Regions from separate parts of the Homo sapiens genome. Here region 1 is linked to region 2. The links come from fine-mapping of genetic effects on gene expression. Tissue or cell type: lung. Region 2 holds a variant in brackets; the other region holds the start of a gene. All regions are shown on one strand. Distances are between the middles of the regions.

Region 1 (5,377 bases), 33 kb after region 2:
CCTCCTCTGCGATCAATTCCGGATGCCCCCACTTAGTCCCTGCCTCGGTAACCGGTTCTTTGGGGACAGCAGCATCAGCACCCGACGCCCATCGCACAAGTGGGCGCCGTGGTGCGAGGCGTATCCTAGCTACCCAGGCCGGGGTGGGGGCGCCCCGGTACTTACACTCCCCAAGCAGGCAAACTTTCAGGCTTGTCTTTCGAGAACCGGGAGCTCGCATCACAGTTCCGGGTAATCACCGAGGCAGCTTATGTAATTGCCCGCGATGCCGCTCAGCAGATCTCTCTCCTTACTCGGCCTCAGAGCTCAGTACATGGGCACCCTCTTCCCCCCACCCCCCACCCCGGCGATTGGAATCCCGAGCTTGCCCCACCACCGCCTTCTACAAAGCAGCGGGGTGATCTCGTGTGCTACAAACACCAAGCCAGTATGCAGGTTCAGGCAAAACTCTGGCTGCCTCCCTGCGCCCCTTTCACTGCGTCGATGGTTTACAGATAACTGCATTTCTATAAACCCTCTCTCCACGGTTAGGGGGTGGGAGGGAGTTAGAGATCGGGTGGGGGCTTGGCGCGGTACTGTTGAGGGCTCTGCACCCAACTGAGCAGTAATACACTCATCCACATGGACGCGGGTGCATAAATCGCCTTAACATTTTGCCCTGAAAGCGGAGCCAATTTCCAAAGTTAAGGACCACGCAGCTGAATTTCCAGTACTTTCCAACCTCGCCTAGGCGGGGGCAGGCAGAGAAGGGGCGGGCAGCGGGCAGCTAACTCGCCCGACCCCCCCGCCAAGAAGGACTCACTAGGTGAACCCCCCGCCCTTCACCCAAGTAGTTGGTTGTGTATTCCTCGGTTGCGTGTGTGTGTCCACACACACACACACACACACACACACACGCCGCCCCACTACCTTCCAGTCTGCTCCTCCAATGTAACGACCGCATTTAAAAATGGCAATTAAAATGACTGAGGAGCTCGGTGATCACATTTCAACCCAGAGCACATTTCCCGAAGCTGGGGGTGAGAGTAGTCATACAGTCACACTCACACCCGGGAGCCCTCCAAGCGTCCATCTGGCGGCTGCAGCCTCAGTTGGCTCCTAGACGAACATCAATACCGCGGCCGGGCGCCCGGTGAGGAGAGGCGGGCGCCCCGCGGGTTGCAGAGGGCGAGGAGCTGGGGTCGCATCTCCAGGATCTGAGCTCCAACCACCGCCCGTGCGGGGCTGCTGCAGCCGGCACTTGCCCCGCAGGGCAGGCTGCAGCCGCTGAAGCCCGGCGCCGCCTCGCGGGCTCCTCCAGCGCCCGACGGGGGCCTGGGGCGAGCTAGTCTGCAGAGGGGCTGCAGGCGACCGGGCCGGGGCGGGGAACGGGATCCGGGAGAGGCAGACGAACCTGGGGCGCGCCGCCTCCCTCCCACCCGCTTCCCACCTCCCTGCCCTCCCCCAACCCTTGCTCCCAGGCTCCAGTCCGCGGCGGGCTCCGGGGGCTGCGGCGGCTCCAGGCTCCAGAACAGCTTGCCTCTTCGGCCACCCGCGCCCTAGCCTCCCTCCTCCTGGGCCAGGGGAGCAAGCAAACATCTCCCGGAGCCCTCGGCAGCCGCGTGAGCTACCCGAACCCTGCCCGGGCCAGCAGTGCAGAGGGCGATGGAGCTGGCGAGGCGTCGCCGCGGTCCCCAAGGCGCTTTTCCGTAGAGCGGATCACGCCGCCTTACCGTGGCTGCAGGCTGCTACCGCCGGGGAAGCGGCGAGGACGGCGGCAGGGAGGCAAGGCGCCGCGCCGGTGGCTCCTCTCTCTCTCGGCGGCGCGGCTCCTCTGCTCCGCGAGCCGTAGCGGGGCGCCCAGGAAGGAGCAGGTCCGGGCTCTGCGCTCAGCTCCAGCGAGACCAACAATAGCTCCCGCGGGGAGCGGAGCCCCAGCGAGCCTCCAGCCGCGCGCGCACGACCGGCTCCCGCTCCCGGCCGCTCCCGGCCGGCGTCCCTGCCAGCACTGCTGCCCCACATGAAACAGCTGCAATCCCGAGGCTTCTGGGGGGTTGGGGCGGGTGTGTGCGCGCGCGTGTGTGAGTGTGTGTGTGTGTGTGTGTGTTTAATAGCTTCCCTTCTCTTCTTCCCCTCCCTGCCTGCTCGCCTGCCTGCCTCCGTCCCCCACCCTCGCTCTCTTACACACAGAAAGAGAGGGCGAGCGAGAGAGAGACACACACACACACGCACACGCACACGCAGGTTACATGAATGGGAGGCGGTAGCCAATCCTACGAGGCCGGCGAGCCGCGCGGCGCACTGGCGCTGGGAGCAGGGCCGCACTCCGGCGCGGGGGGGCGCCACGCAGGTGATGGGCGCCTCTCCGGGGGCCACGCGCGGCCGCTCCCTCACCCCAGTCTCGGTTCCTCTGTCTCCTTCCCCCTTCCTCTCCGCCGCCTTCTCCATCTTCTCTCCTTTTACCTCCTTTGCTTTCTCGAGTTCTCCGAGCTCTCTCAGTTCGGTATCTTTCTGGTCTCTTTCTTCTTTTACCCTCCTTGCTTGCTTTCTCTTCCCCTTTCTGAAACTTTCTCTTTTCCTTTCTGGACTTTCTTGTACTTCCTCTCCTCTTGCCTTTTGTTCTTTCCTCCTCCTTTGGCTTTCTCTCCAGGCTCCCCGTAGCACGGTCTCGTCCCCTCTCCCTCCTCTTCGCCTTTCCCTGGGTCTCTCTGGCGCCCAGGGCCTCCCTTCTGCCTGCTCGCTGGATGTTACTCCACACCCCCCACCCCAACACTTTTCTAGGGACGGTCTCTTTCAAGTTGCTACTGCAGCACAATCAGAGTAATTAAGAGCTGAGATCTTGAGTTCCTTCTTCAGGCATGCAAGATGCCCAAAGAAAGGCCCTCCTTCCTCGGACAACTTCCCCAAAACCATGGTAACAGCTACTGAGTCGTGATAACAATCACTTAAAAAATAGCAGTGATTGCGGTCCAAGAGATTTCTGTCCCTCGAATGTTTGGATCGTGATGGCAAGCACATTTCCAAGAGAAGGGCATTTTTATGTGATGAGAGCGGTAGTTTGACTGAGTGGCAACTTGGAAGGGCTTTGGGGAAGAGACTGGAGGAATTCCCACTCCAGCCCTGCTGCCTGCTGGCTAAAGGACTTAGTGCGAGCCATTTCCCCTTACCCGGCTTCAGTTTTCTCATCTATAAAATGGATGATACCGACTTCACCAGTTTTGGTGAGGATTAAAAGAGAGAACAATGGAAAGAAAGCACTGGGTGTATATGAGATGCTTAATTTATGTTAGTTTCCTTCTTTAAGACAACTTCCTTCATGATCTTCTGCTACAGTGTGTCTCTCTGATCTAAAGTAGTCAATGAAGGAGGAAATGTGACAATGCTAATTTCACATAAATGTGAAAGGAGGGGTAGGCTATTTTGAAAACTCTTCTGTGTGGTGAGGAGACTGTCTAGCCAGTTGCCATATGCTGATTATAAAGGCATCACAGATTATAAACGTGGGGTGCTGGAATGCCCCTTCAACATCTCATAACTAGGGCATCTCAGAAAGGCAGGGATGGGTTGGGGTGGGTGGGAAGTTTCCACACAATCTGTCCAATCTATTTTTAAAATCTTTATGATAAGTGTACAGTGACCAGTGACAAAGCCTCTGAGATTAACTAAAATGTCAAGTCTCTGCCTTTGAATAGCATTTATCAACTTTGTGTCCTCACTGCAGACATCAAATGCTGGGCATCAGCTGTGATTGGCAGTTAGATTTAGTCCTTCAACAAATATTTCTTGACCACCTACTTTGTGGCAGGTGCTGTGATAGGTCTCGGCATTCAGTGGTGAGACAAACAGGCCCTGTTTTCTGAGCTTACAGTTCAGTAGGCATGTTTCATGAATGTACACTGAGAAAATGAGACACATGTACCTGAAGGAGTAACATTGGTTTGGTGGACAAATTCTTTCATTACAGAAGATCCAAGACAGGGAGTATAAGAAAGGGATCTTTGAGAGTGATAATTTTGCAAATCACTTTCAGTCTATGCATTTCATTTGACCAGTGAGAAAAATGAGACCCAGATGCTAAAAGTAGTGGGTGAAAGTATGTTGAGAAACAAAAAATATATATAGGTTCAAAGTATCTGCCCACATGATACTGATTAATTTCAAAGGGGAAAATAGTAACTTTTCAATAGAAAACCTGAAAGACTCCACCTTGAGTGATTAAAATCAGTATTAGCAGGAATGTGACAAATAGACATCAAGTGGCCCCTGATATAGTGCACTGGGAAGGACATATCACTTCTGTGATATTCCTGGTAGACATGAATAACCTGAATCTAATCATGAGGGATGCCCAATGGAATTGTTGGGAGTAAGGGAAGACTTCCCATAGGAGATGACAGGTTCTCACTCTGTCATCCAGGCTGGAGTGCAGTGGTGCCATCTTGGTTCACTGAAGCCTCAACCTCCTGAGCTCAGGTGATCCTCCCACCTCAGCCTCTTGAGTAGCTGGGACCACAGGCATGTGCCACCACACCACGCCAAACTAATTTTATTTGTTTGTTTGTTTGTTTTACAGATGAGGTCTCACTATGTTGCCCAGGCTGGTCTCAAATACCATCAATCCTCTGCCCTAGGCTTCCCAGAGTGCTGGGATTATAGGTGTGAGCTACCATACCTGGCCTTGAGCTGAGTTTTGAAGGCAAGGAATTAGCTAGACCGTGAAAGGAGGGGAGATGCTTTTTAGGTACAGGCAATAGTATGATGACATGGACAAAAGCATGAGACACTCATAGCAGAGTTGGACATATTGGGGGAGGGTCTTGGAGGAGTCTAGATGAGTCCCTAGCATCTAGGATTGGATTTTGACAGGGCCTGAAGGAGGCTAAGGATCCAAACATCCTGAAAGTTCAGGTACTGGGGCAGAAGGAGGGTAGACAGTTAATAAAGGCTTTTAAGAAGAGGAAGGATGTGATCTTGAGTGTGTTTTCAAAAGATGATTTGGCAGCAGTGTAGAGAAATGGATTAACTGGGGTGACTTAGGAAGAGTAGAGGCAGGAAAAAGTAGGTCATTTAGGGAAACTAAGGCAGTTGCAATGAAGCCAGAAAAGGGAGGAGAGATTTGAGAGAGATTGAGGATGATTTTGATTTCTGATTGGATGGGGGTAGCAAGGAGAAGCCCAAAGTGACACTCAGTTTTCAAGCTTGGGTATCTCAATAGAAGGTGGTACTACTCATTGCGATGTCAAGAGTATTCAGGAGGAAGTAGAATTCAGGGAGCATTTTAGAGGGGGGAAAAAAGGTCAGTTGCTACCATGTTATAATCTAACTCTATAGCTAACCGGAGATTCTCCTATATGGCTGCTCTGTGCCATAGGAAACACTAGTTGTAAAATTCAGCCTA
Region 2 (5,377 bases):
CTCTGAATGCATTGTGATTTCAAAAAAAAAAAAAAAAAAAAAAAACAACTAGCTCCTAGATGTGCTCTTAACTGCATGTCCTTATCTGGAACTCCGGATGGGCGAGAACCCCATCTATGGAGGTGTCTACAAATGCACACATCTGGCCCTGCCCCAGAGCTGGGACCAGAATCTCTACGGTGATCTCCAGGTTGGAGTGGGGGCTCACTTTGATGGTTCCAGCCTTAACCACCGCACCAGGGCTGATGTTTCTTGGCCTGACTGTGCAGACATACAATCTTGACCAAAGACAAGGTTCTGTTCTCCCTACACTGTAGCACCCGAGACTTGCTGACAGTCATTGTGGCATGAGGCTCCTTCCATCTTTTGGATTTCTGCCACACCCCCAGCCTATCTGCTCTATTATTAACCTAGTGCAATTTTTCTTCACATTCAACTGACTCTTTGTTTCTGGAATCAATTTATTTTAAAAGGAAAATGTATCTCATTATCTTAAGTGAAAAAAACACCATCTTTTCATGAATAGAAAACAAAAAGGTTAAAAAATGAATATGATGAACAAAACAAGGTGAATACTGTTGCCTCCTCATCCAAACTCAGGTCTCTGTTAAACAGGGAGATGAACAAGCATTGGCGAGGTATTAAATACCTACCAGTGCCAAAATCAGGCTTTCTCCTCCACTAAATCAGAAAGATTAAAGAGGAAGTGAAACAAGACTTTCTCACCATGTGATCCAATGTTACTTAACACCGTGCTTAGGTAACACACGCAACCATTTGGTCCCAGTCCCCCGTGGAAAACACCTATCTAGTCCAGCCTTCTCCATTTACACAGGAATAAAAGAACCCAAGAGTTAAGCGTCAGGCCTTTGTCACATCTAAGCCTGGCAGCAAAGCAGAATGGAGAATCTAGGTCTCCTGGCTCCTAAGTCTTATTTGATAATTCTTTAAAAACTGTATTTTTAAAAAAATATGGGCAGCAGAGTATACAGGGAGAGAAATATATATTTACTCTGATCTTTCCTTATCAGATCCCAAAGCATATTATGATAGAAGAGGTTAAGGAAACAAAGCATATCTGTATCAAAAGGAAAGCAAAAAAATTTGATCATCAAGTAATTATTGACAATCTACTTCTGTGCCAGGCTCTATGCTCTGTGCTGGGCCCATCAACAGAGAACAAGAGACAGTTTCCTGCCCCTGACCCCCAACCTGTCAGTGTATGGGGCCAATATTTGGACTAGAAGTGGCCTGTGTGGACTGATCATTCACTCAATTCATTGCTCCACGAATATGTATGAGTACCTAACTATGTGTCAGATTTCCATAAATAATTTTTATGGGAATATTGATGGTCTCTTCCAGACAGTTACTCTGATCATTCTACTTACTGCTAAGAGTCAAACATAAGAATGGCAGGATTTAAAAGTTAGGTCAGTTATAGAAAACTGTTTTATAAAACTGATGCTGGACGTCTTAATGAGGGATATAATTTAAAAGCATTAAACAGTTTAGAAACTGTTACTAATAATAGCTAACAAGCAAACCAATCATGTAATTAGTAATAATCAGCTAACATTTGTTAGATATTTATGATATGCTTGATATCGTGCTAAGCACTTTCGCAGATCCTGACTCAATACTCACAAGAATCCTGCTCATCTGCAATACACAGACTTGGAACCAAGGCTTACAGAGGTTAAGTAACTTTCCCAAGATCCTGCTGCTAATAAGTAGCGAGACCTAGATATAAATCAGGATAGGTGACAGAAAGTTAAAACCTCCCAAAATGTAAAAGACATGCTTTCTAGAAGAAAAATATACATTTGTTGAAATTTGTATCACTTTAATTACATTCACAAAGAAGAGGGGAAAATTTTAACCTCCTTCAAAGTTCATCTACTAGTTGAACTCTTTATCAGTAGTTAACAAATGGGTGAAGATAGTGTTTCCCAAACTTTTCTGTGCTAAGAATCACCTGGAGGGCTGGTTAACAGGAATTGCTGGGCCTCATCCCCAGGGTTTCTCATTCAGTAGTTCTAGGGTGGAACCTGAAGATTTGCATTTTTTCTTTTTCTTTTTCTTTTTTTTTTTTTTAAGAGAGTCTTGCTCTGTCTCACAGGCTGGGGTGCAGGAGCATGATCTTGGCTCACTGCAACTTCTGTCTCCCAGGTTCAAGTGATTCTTCTGCCTCAGCCTCCCAAGTAGCTGGGATTACAGGCACCGGTCACCACGCCCAGCTAATTTTTGTATTTTTAGTACAGACATGGTTTCATCATTTTGGCCAGGCTGGTATCGAACTCCTGACCTCAAGTGATCTGCCCACCTTGGCCTTCCAAAGTGCCAGGATTACAGGTGTAAGCCACCA[T/G]GCTGGGCCAACCACTGCGCCCAGCCATCTTTCCTTTTCTTTTCCTTTTGGTTAAAATCCTAGAGAAAAACTTAGGAAAAACTCTACTGGATGCTGGCCAAGATTTGCATTTCTAACAAGCTCCCAGGTGAAGCTGATGCTGCTGGTCCGGAGACCACACTTAGAGAAACGCCAGGTTATGAGTTCGTGGGCTTTAGAATTAGACAGACTTGGGTCGGAACCTTGATTTTTCCATTTGCTTTATGTGCAAGTCACAGAGGCAGAGCTACTTATCTAAAAAAGAGAATATCACTATTGAATAAAATCGTTTTGAGGATTACATTAAACAAGAATATGTAACCTCTGTAATAATCTCCCAAATACCTGGCATATACAGGTATTCAACACACTGGCTTTGTTAATATTATTGACAAACAATCCACTAGGAAAAATGTCTAATAACTTTTCCACTACATGCTTTATTGGAGATGGAAAGGAAGAAAATTGCATTTTGGGGGATTGTGATATTTCCTCCCAATAAGTTTGTCTTTTTTATGCATAAAGATGTTAGAAAATGGTGGCTGATGAAAAAGGAAGGCATATGCAGTGGAAACCCATCAAAGCCAAATGCCAGGAGTTGAGAAGGGCAGCTCTTTTCCCAGCACCCATCAGGTGGTACAGAAGGACTTGTAGGCAAAATTAGAGGTGCTTGATGGGATCTGGGCTCAGTGGAAGCTCATAGCAGAATTAATAATTATCACATAACAATATAATTGCATGGCCTTTTTAAGGCACTTTACTGTTGAATGGAATAAATAAGAAGTATTAAGTTCTCCTTTTGGTCTTCCTTTGCCTGAATTATAAAGTGTTGTCTATGAGGGATATTTTGTGTGTGTGTGTGTGTGTGTGTGTGTGTGTGTGTGTGTGTGCGCGCGCGCGCGTGCGTGCACGCGCACGCACATGCGTGAGAGTTAGTGGTTTTAGAATAAGCTGTAGAGATAAATTTTGTTGTGAGCTTCTCTTCCAGAAAAAAAAAAAAAGATTATACTAAGGAATAGAAATTGGCATTGGAGCTAAAAATAGCTGTGTGGTAGAGTGGTGGGAACACTTGGGCACATTTTAGAGCTGTTTAGGAGTGTTTAAAGCATTTAAAGGTAGATTCTGGGGCATAGAGCAGGACTGAAATCATCTGATGAGGCATACATTTCTAAGGCTATTCACAGGTTCATAAGAGTGAGGCATATTTGTGTGACCCAGTGGAGAAGGGTTAAAATGGAATGAGGGGCGGCAGGAATCCAGCGTGGCTAGGGAATTTCACCAGCTGCGCCTTTGCTGATGCACTTTAACTCTTGGAGCTGCAGGTTCCCATGAAGGAGGGTGGAAGAATAGCCCCCCCGGAACCATTCTGGCTGCTCCATAGCTGCCCCCTCTAGTCCAGGTCTCAGCTCAAATGCAGTCTGCCTGACCACGCACACCAGCTGTAGCAGACACTACGGATGCCCTCAACCCACCTGCAGCCTCCATAGACTGCTTCCACTCCATAAATGCTTCCTAACTCAAGTCAGACACATATTTCTCTGCTTTGGGACTCTCTGGAGGTGGAGGCTCCACAACCAATGAGGAACATCTGTAGGTGGATACATACCCCAGCTTTCTTGGCCCCTGATGGAACAATAGTCCAGCAAATGTGTCAGTGTCCCTCTGAGGGTCCCAGCAGGAATGAGCTCTAGTTGCCCACAGTGGTAACCTAATCATTAAATTACCCTCTGTTTACAGGGGTATCCAATCTTTTGGCTTCCTTGAGCCACACTGGAAGAAGAACTGTCTTGGGCCACACATAAAATACACTAAAATGATAGCTGATGATCTAGAAAAAAAATAGCAAAAAAACCCATAGTTTTTAAAAAGTTTACGAATTTGTGTTGGGCCGCATTCAAAACCATTCTGGGCTTCATGGAGCCTGCAGGCTGCGGGTTGGACAAGCTTGCTCTATTAGCTTCCCTTCCTTTCCCATTTCACTTCCTTACTTTCTCAGCAGGCTTCCTGGAATCACCTTGCAAATTGTTACCTACACTCAAATCCTTTTCTCAGGGCTTTAGGAAGAACCCAAACTAAGACAATATCTAAGGTCCCCAGCACCTCTCCAGTGCTCCATCATACCACACTGTTTAATTTCCTCTCTGATCACTTTCTGAACTTACTTGTTTCCTCTTCTCAGTTCTCCACAAGGGCAGAGAGACTGGTTCTACTGCATCCCCATCACCTAGAACTGTGCCTGACTGGGGCTCAATACATATTAACTGACTAAATGACCACTTTGAAATGGCTTCCTCCTACAATTGTTTCTATAAACAGGAATTACACTATTATCACTTGATATCAACTCCATCTTTTTCCCAGAATATAGTCCTGTCCTAACACATATGTATGAACAGGCAGAGAAGTGTATATGAAAAGAGTTTTGGAATTCAAAGAGCTGTGACTTTGGGCAATTTATTTGCCTTCTCTGACCTTTCCTGAGGCCATCTCAAAATTAGGAATAGTATTGCCTGCCTGATGGGTTTACAGTGAAGGCTAGGAGCTTAGGAGATGTGAAGTGCCTGGTACGTGGTAGGCATTTAATAAGTGTGAGTTTCTTGCTTGCCCGTTTCTTTCACTTACCTTCTCTCTAAACCTCCATAGTAAGTCCTGTACTCTACAGGGAGGGTTCTTTGAGAACCTTTCTCCATGTCGGGCCTACCTCTGTCCTTGTTAATCATCCCTGTGCCCCTCTACACACACATACACACACACACACATACAAACACACACTCAAGTGGATATGGTCACTCATTACAGGGCCAGCACCCATATTCTCTACTAGCTTGTACTTTCTGCTTCCATGTGGTAGATCCTGGCCCTTCTATCCAGGCTACTTGGCCATTTCACAGATAGGAAAAGTGAGGCTCAGAGAGGGTAAGTTTAAAGCTTCTGGGCTAGTAGGACACACAGACTGCCTGACTCCTGAACCCTTGATCTTCCCCAGGCCAT

Evidence for each region.
Region 1: it holds the start of TENM4, and the variant in region 2 is fine-mapped to the expression of TENM4 in lung (TOPMed, PIP above 0.99). The same link has a PIP of 0.9 or more in ileum.

What each region holds. Positions count from the first base shown.
Region 1 is chr11:79,438,797-79,444,173 of GRCh38, forward strand. It overlaps TENM4 (teneurin transmembrane protein 4), which reads right to left and starts at 2,234. Exons shown (of 34, transcript NM_001098816.3): 1 at 1,713-2,234. RefSeq lists silencers at 1,823-1,932, 2,193-2,362.
Region 2 is chr11:79,405,827-79,411,203 of GRCh38, forward strand. All of the region lies in intron 1 of TENM4 (teneurin transmembrane protein 4), which reads right to left. Among named protein-coding and RNA genes, the nearest start is that of MIR708, 6.4 kb to the left of the region's middle. The variant T/G (reference allele first, on the strand shown) is at 2,369.